3 separate regions of the Homo sapiens genome follow, and all the other regions are linked to region 2. Evidence: fine-mapped expression QTL. A gene starts in region 2. Each other region holds a variant in brackets. All regions are shown on one strand. Distances are between the middles of the regions. Region 1 overlaps PPARD (peroxisome proliferator activated receptor delta). Region 2 holds the start of PPARD (peroxisome proliferator activated receptor delta). Region 3 overlaps PPARD (peroxisome proliferator activated receptor delta).

Region 1 (2,500 bases), 74 kb before region 2:
CTTGAACCCGGGGGCAGGGGGGCGGAGGCTGCAGTGAGCTGAGATCGCGCCATTGCACTCGGCTGAGTGTGGTGGCTCACGCCAGTAATCGCAGTACTTTGGGAGGCCAAGGCAGGAGGATTACCTGAGGCCAGGAGCAACATAGTGAGACCCTGTCTCTATAAAAAGTAAAAAAAAAAAAATAGTTGGGTGTCGTGGCACCTGCCTATAGTGCCAGCTACTGAGGAGGCTGAGGCAGGAAAATCCTTGAGCCTAGGAGAGCTGTGATTGTGCCATCGTATACCAGCCTGGGTGATAAAGCAAGACTGTCTCTACTTAAAAAAAACAAAAGGCCAGGTGCAGTGGCTCACACCTGTGATCCCAACACTTTGGGAGGCTGAGGCGGGAGGATCACTTGAGCCCAGGAGTTTGAGACCAGCCTGGGCAACATAGTGAGACCCTGTCTCTATCTCTATAAAAAATTTTAAAAACTAGCTGGGTGTGGTGGCACATGCCTGTAGTCCCAGATACTTGGGAGGCTGAGGTGGGAGGATTGCCTGAATGTGGGAAGATGACTTGAGCCTGGGAGGTCCAGGTTGCAGTGAGCTGTGATTGCACCACTGTACTCCAGCCTGTGGTGACAGAACAAGACCTTGTCTCAAAAAAATAAATAAACAAATAAATAAACAAGAAAAACAAGGAAAGGTAAGGTGTAACTTAACCTACTGTAACTCACTTGTGCCTACAGGAAAAAAATAAAATAGAAAAAAAAAGAGAAAGAGATAAGAAAACTAGAACATGAGACAGAGTGGAGCAACGCCAGGTAAGGGGCAGTAAGAAGTGCAGGATATTGGAAGGAGCCATCACTCACGCATGTGACTGTCACGGAAGGGGACTGCTTCCCTCTCTGCTGAAAGAAAGGTGATGGCAGAATTCTTCTCATACTAGGGGCTGGGTTCTGAAGGTTCCACCACTTCCCCCGCATCATGATGTCCTGGGTAGAGGTGGGGGTAAGCAGGTGTCCTGCTAAAGGCACTCCATTGGACACCCATTTCATCTCACGTAAAACCTCAAAACAACCTTTCAAGATGGTCTTCTTACCCCCACTTTACAGGCAAGGAAGCCGAGGCTCCAAGGCTCAGAAGTGTTAGTAACTTGCTGGCAGCGGCTATGTTGGTCTTACATATCAACTTGATTAGGCCACGGTGCCCAGTTGTTTGACCAAACAATGTGCTAAGAAGGTGTTTTTTTTTTTTTTTTTTTTTTTTTTTTTTTTTTTTGAGATGAAGTCTCGCTTTTGTTCCCCAGGCTGGAGTGCAATGGCGCGATCTCAGCTCACTGCAACTTCTGCCTCCCGGGTTCAAGCGATTCTCCTGCCTCAGCCCCCCGAGTAGCTGGGATTACAGGCGCCCAGCTAGTTTTTTTTGGTATTTTTAGTAGAGATGGGGTTTCACCATGTTGGCTGGGCTGGTCT[T/C]GAATTCCTGACCTCAGGTGATCCACCCACCTTGGCCTCCCAAAGTGCTGGGATTACAGGCATGAGCCACTGTGCCCGGCCACTAAGAAGATATTTTTTAGATGCAATTAACATTTAAATCAGAAGACTTTGAGTAAAGCAGATTACCCTCCATAATGTGAGTGGCCCTCATCCAACAACTGAAGGCCTTAAGAAAAAAGACTGAGTGCCTACCGTGGCCCCACTGTGGAACAGGAAATTCTGCCTCCAGGCTGCCTTTGGACTTGAGCTGCAACATCAACTTCCCCGGCTCTCCAGCCTGCCTGCCTTTCAAAATTTGGACTTGCCACTCCAACAACTGTGTGAACCAATTCGTTAAAACACATCTCTTTCTTTCAACACACACACACACACACACACACAGGTTCTCCTTCTCTGGAGAACCCTGACTAATACAGTGACAGAGCAAGAATTATAACCTAGAACCATGCAATTCCTGGAGCTGAGCTCTTAACCTCGGCATCTCACTACTACGCATACCTACATGTTCAGTACCGCTAATCAATAACATTATTATGATGAACAAGAAGACACAGTCACTGCTGAGGAGGCACCATGTCATTATCCAAATGTTTGGATTCAGTGTAAACACTAGCCCTCTCACCCAGAGAGTAAAGTATCAGTTTCACCATCTTTGATGACAAGTTCAGCAAATAGACACTATTGACCTTATTCACATCATTTGTGGCTGAGAGCTCTCCTGCATATCTAGCCTCCAATGCTGGGAGAATGCCGTTGTCATGGCTGTGAAGACAGCCAGGAGGCGCCCGATTGGTCTATTTACTTTGCTGGCAGAGCTCACAGGCAAACAAGCACCCAGCAGCTTCTGAAGTCAGGCCAAATTCTGCAGGGATTTGAGGCTGGGTTACTGAGCAGCCTCTTTACTTCTGCTGTCCTGTTTGCCTGAACTGTGGGCTCCTTGGGACAGGCACTCAGCCTTGTCCACCACTGTATGGCCAGCCCTGGGCACAGTGCTGGGCCCAGCCTGATGCCCACCAAGTGCTTGCC
Region 2 (2,500 bases):
GGCACACATCCAGCTCAGCGCCGTCTCCCCCAAGGGTTCCTGGAAGTCAACAGCCCCATAAAGGGGAAGTATTAAAGCTGAGATAAGAAGAATGGCCTACAAATTGGACATCATCTCTGATGCAACACCCACGTACATTCTCCCACACAATCTGTTATTTCCTTTAGTCAATCAGCCTCTTAATTCGATCAAGGTCTGAACACCTCCACCCCCACCCCATGGTTATGTCAACTGCAGGTCAAGTGAAAGTAGAGTAGAGTGTGGAGCTAAGGCTTCTCCCTGAAGCAGGGGAAAGGAACAGGGAGAGAAAAGGAGGTGGGCGACAGGAATGTAGGGGACAGAATTGATACGAAGGAAATCGGAAAAAGGAGCAAAAACAGGGCCTCTCAGGGAACCAAGGTGAGAGTCTTAGGGAGACAGGGACTGCAGGCACGGAGTTGGAAAAAGCCTAGGAACACCCTGGGGAAGAGGATGGGGACCCATAATACTAGGAGGGATCAGACCACAGATAAGAAGGGGACAGGGATGGGGAGAGAGAGTAAAGCCTGAGAGAGCAAGGATGGGAGGATGAAGGCAGGAGACAAGGATAACGAGGGGGACAGAGGAAAAGATCCCAGAGAAGACTCTCGCTAGATAGGGCAGTGGATTCAGGAACACCAGAAACGGGTGAAGGAAGAGGTCAGAGGCAGGGGAGGGGAATGGGAGAGGCCCCCGGGCCTGAGACGGGGTTCTCACAAGTGGGAGAAGACGAAGCCACCAGGCCCAAGAGGGGGCAAAGAGTAGGGTGGAAGGAGGCCCGTATTTCGGACTCACTCAAGCAGCTATGGGGGTCCAAGGGCGGGGGGGCGCAGGGTCAGCGGGGCGCCTACATGGCAACGCACGACGGCTGACCGGAGCGGGCCGGAGCATCAGGAAGCCGCCGTGACGCTGTCCGCGGACCCCGGCAGCTCCCCGCACCCCGTTCCCCGCCGCCGGGCCTTGCGCCCCAGTCCCGCTGGCCGCCTCGGCCCAGGCCCGGCGCTTCCCTCCGCCACTTGCCTGACCGCTTCTCTCGTCTCGGACTGACCTGTCCCGGCTGCCTACGGCGCCACCGCCGCCGTCCCGCAGGCTCCGCAGAATTCTCCCGCTCCTGCCAAAACTTTTCCCATTAATCCCCAGGTCCGCGGCGGCCGCAGCGTCACACGCTCCGCGGCCCGGCCCCGCCCCCGCCAGCGAGACGTCACCGCGCTGCTCGGCCTTTCCCTCCCCACGCCCCCTTCCGCCCGGCGGCGGCCAATCACCACGCCTCCTGGAGACTCCCCTAATTCTGCCTCTCCGCCCACCGCACGCTGCCCCGGGCCAGCCTGTGGCGCCCTCTGGTGCGGGATGCGGACGTAGCAGCTAAGGGAGGAGCAGGGGAGCGCCAGGTCCAGTAGAACAAGTCCAGCAAGTGACACAAGAGGGAATTTAAAGCTGGAAGGGAATTTCTAGGTCATCTAGTGCAACCTCCTCATCTTCCAGTGAAGAAACTTAGTCCTAGAAAAGGTACGTGACTTGCAGTGACAAGTCTGGAGAGACTCTTAACCCAGTGCTAGGTCCACTGGAGGAGATCATATCGCCTATAATTTTCAAAAAAGGGCTTTCCGCCTTCAAGAGGCTTCTACAACTGGAAATTTACGGTCTTAGAGTTCTTAACCTTTCTTCCCATGTGCTTATGCAATACGCTTATTCACCTAAAATAGGGGACATCCTCCTTATTGTTGTAGAAAATTCTGTTCTTATTAATCCACATCTTTAAGACCTGGAAGGGACCTATTATCCCAACCTACCGCTTAAGATGTACCACAGGAAACTACCTAGCAGCTGGGAGGCAATCTGGTGGAAGAAGTTGGCTTTCATCTGACGATGAACAAAGCTTGACTCTCAGGTATATGACCAATGCCTCCCCTCCATCATCATTAAAGATGACCCCTCCCCTCTCCTTCGGCCACACCTTCCGTAGGCCGCAAGCTCCTTAGGCCACACCTAGCTATCTGGATGAGTGATTTTTTTTTTTTTTTTTTTTTTTGAGACACAGTTTCACTCTGTCGCCCCTGCTGGAGTGCAGTTGCGCAATCTCAGCCCGCTGCAACCTCCGCCTCCCGGGTTCAAGCGATTATCCTGCCTCAACCTCCCAAGTAGCTGGGATTACAGGCATGCGCCACACGCCCAGCTAATTATTGTAATTTTAGTAGAGACAGGGTTTTGCCATGTTGCCCAGGCTGGTCTTGAACTCCTGGACTCAAGTTATCCTCCCACCTTAGCCTCCCAAAGTGCTGGAATTACAGGCGTGAGCCACCGTGCCTGGCAGGGATGAGTGATTTTTTCCCCCTTCTTTCTGCTTCTCTTTTTCTTTTTCTTTTTTTTCCCCTACTTTTTGAAATGCTTGTGCATTATATTTGTAACTTAGATGTCAACCTCCTTGCCCTTTGAGATTGAGGTAAAAATGGACGGTGAAAGTCAGAGTCCCTCCCTTAACATA
Region 3 (2,500 bases), 47 kb before region 2:
GGTATTCATTTTGTGTTAATGCTCTCTTCCGCATTTTCTATTATCAGATGTCTATATCAGATAGAGATCATTTTTACATGCTAATGAAATATATACAATCATATATCACAATATATTTGTCCATAATAACAATAAACTATGCATTTATTTTATTTTTATTATTTTAATTTTTTAGATGGGGTCTCACTCTGTCACCAAGACTGTCACCACCCGGAGTGGTGCTATCATAGCTCACTGCAGCCACAAACTCCTGGGCTCCAGTGATCCTCCTGCCTCAGCCTCCTGAGTAACTGGGACTACAGGCACATGCCACCATGCTGGCTAATTTTTTTTATTTTTAATAGAGACAAAATCTTTCTCTGTTAACAGGCTGGTCTCAAACTCCTGAGCTCAAGCCATCCTCCTGCCTTGGCCTCTCAAAGTGCTGGGATTACAGGTGTGAGCCACTGTGCCCAACCAAACCACCAAACCACGCATTTAATGTTACATCTTTTTTTCTCTTTTTCTTTTCTTTCTTTTTTTTTTACAGAAACACCTCTGAAATTTTATCACAGAAAAAATAATTCCATTTATTATTATGACCACTCCTTATTTAAAAACTCATAAAGTGTTAGGAAAGATATAGAAAAAGTTATGATTTTGGGCATTCCAGGGAATTTCTATTACTTGTTCCTCAATCCTGAAAGTTAATAACTGTTGGGAATTTGGAAGTACCAGCATCTTGATGGCCAGCCTTCGTTATGACCCCTGCTCCCACATGGCAACATTCCACCTAGTAGCTCCAGCCAGAGAGCCCCACTCAAATAAAATATCATTTATGGGACTGTTTCAGGCACCATGTACAAAAGCACTGACCTAGACCCCTATGGGGAGAGATGACAAAAGGAGTAAAACACAGCCTGCCCTTGAAGAGGTAAGTATACAAACTGTGTGATGGAGGGCACATAAGAGGTGGCCACTGTGGAGGAAGAAATATTCCAACTTGGGAGCAGCAGGGATGATTCTGGAGTAGGTGTAATGGCCCTTTCTTCTAGCTGGGCCAGAAAACTAGAAAAGGCACTCCCAGGGAAGGCCAAGGTGAGTCAGGCAACGCAGCCGAGAACACAGGGCACATCTGGGAATGGCGAGCTGTCCGCTTTGGCTGGGGCACCCCACTCTCTGAAGGACAGATAAAGGGCCAGGACCTGGCTAGCCTTGAATTCCTAGTTTCTAAGGTGTATAGACTTAATTTTGAGGCCCGGGGTTCTGCCCTCTGGTTCCAATGACTGTAAGAGTGGAGAGG[G/C]GCAAAGAAAGTCACCAGGGCCCTTCAGAAATGACACAGTGAGAGAGGGTGAGGGTCTGAAATCTCATCTCTCACCCTTTCAAAATGATACAGTTCCTGTATTTTCCCAGGCATAGCTCTTTGCACACTTTCTTGCTATTGCATTTTACTTCTTTATTTTGGGGAATATGCTATTTATTTGCCTGCTTGATTTATAATTGGGGTATAACATACTCATGGTTAGAGTATGCAATCTGCATTAATCTTAAACATAATAAGCCCCATGAATTCCTACATTTATATACCACCATAAAACCATCACCCAGGCTGGGCGCGGTGGCTCACGCCTGTAATCCTAGCACTTTGGAAGGCCGAGGCGGGCGGATCACCTGGGGTCAGGAGTTCAAGATCAGCCTGGCCAACATGGTGAAACCCCTGTCTCTACTAAAAATACAAAAATTAGCCGGGCATGGTGGCAGGCGCCTGTAGTCCCAGCTACTCGAGAGGCTGAGGCAGGAGAATTGCCTGAAGCCAGGAGGTGGAGGTTGCAGTGAGCCGAGATAGTGCTATTGCACTCCAGCCTGGGGCACAAGAGCAAGACTCCATCTCAAAAAAACAAAATAAACAAACAAAAAACAAACCAAAAAAACCCATCACCCAGGTCAAGACAGTAAACATTTCCAGCACCCTACAAGGTTCTTTGTGCCCCTGAACAGCTAATCTCCACAATAAGTAACTACTCCGCTTTTTTTGAGACAGGGTCTTGCTCTGTTGTCCAGGCCAAGCTGGAATGCAGTGGTGGCCTGATCACAGCTCACTGCAGCCTCAGCCTCCTAGGCTCAAGCTATCCTCCCACCTCAGCCTCCCAAAGTACTGGGATTACAGGTGTGAGTCACTGTGCCTGGCTGTAAACCACTCTTCTGACCTCTATCACCATCAGCTAGTTTTGCCTGCTGTTGTGCGTCCAGTTTCTCCTGGTTGGAGTCAGAGCCCACAGAGGGCAGGCACTGAGAGGTTCCTGCTGCCTTGTGGCCCTCTACAGTGCTGGGCACGCAGCAGGCATTTAGATGTCTGATAAGTCAATGATTAGACCAGGTGGTGGAAGCGTGTCCATGGACACCGACCCTCTGCCACATGTTTGCACCTTCTGCCTATGCTGCTCTCCTGCCTGAAATGCCCGCCTCCCCTTTTCCTTTGTCTCATTCCTACCTTCCCCTCTTTTGTTTGAGACAGAGTCTC

The links.
Region 1: its variant is fine-mapped to the expression of PPARD in whole blood (TOPMed, PIP 0.91).
Region 3: its variant is fine-mapped to the expression of PPARD in whole blood (TOPMed, PIP above 0.99).

Annotation. Positions count from the first base shown.
Region 1 is chr6:35,415,134-35,417,633 of GRCh38, reverse strand. The region is part of intron 3 of PPARD (peroxisome proliferator activated receptor delta); the gene reads right to left. Among named protein-coding and RNA genes, the nearest start is that of FANCE, 36 kb to the left of the region's middle. The variant T/C (reference allele first, on the strand shown) is at 1,454.
Region 2 is chr6:35,341,248-35,343,747 of GRCh38, reverse strand. PPARD (peroxisome proliferator activated receptor delta) reads right to left here and starts at 1,190. Exons shown (of 8, transcript NM_006238.5): 1 at 1,067-1,190. RefSeq lists silencers at 729-778, 809-948, 1,129-1,338.
Region 3 is chr6:35,388,699-35,391,198 of GRCh38, reverse strand. All of the region lies in intron 2 of PPARD (peroxisome proliferator activated receptor delta), which reads right to left. Among named protein-coding and RNA genes, the nearest start is that of PPARD, 47 kb to the right of the region's middle. The variant G/C (reference allele first, on the strand shown) is at 1,283.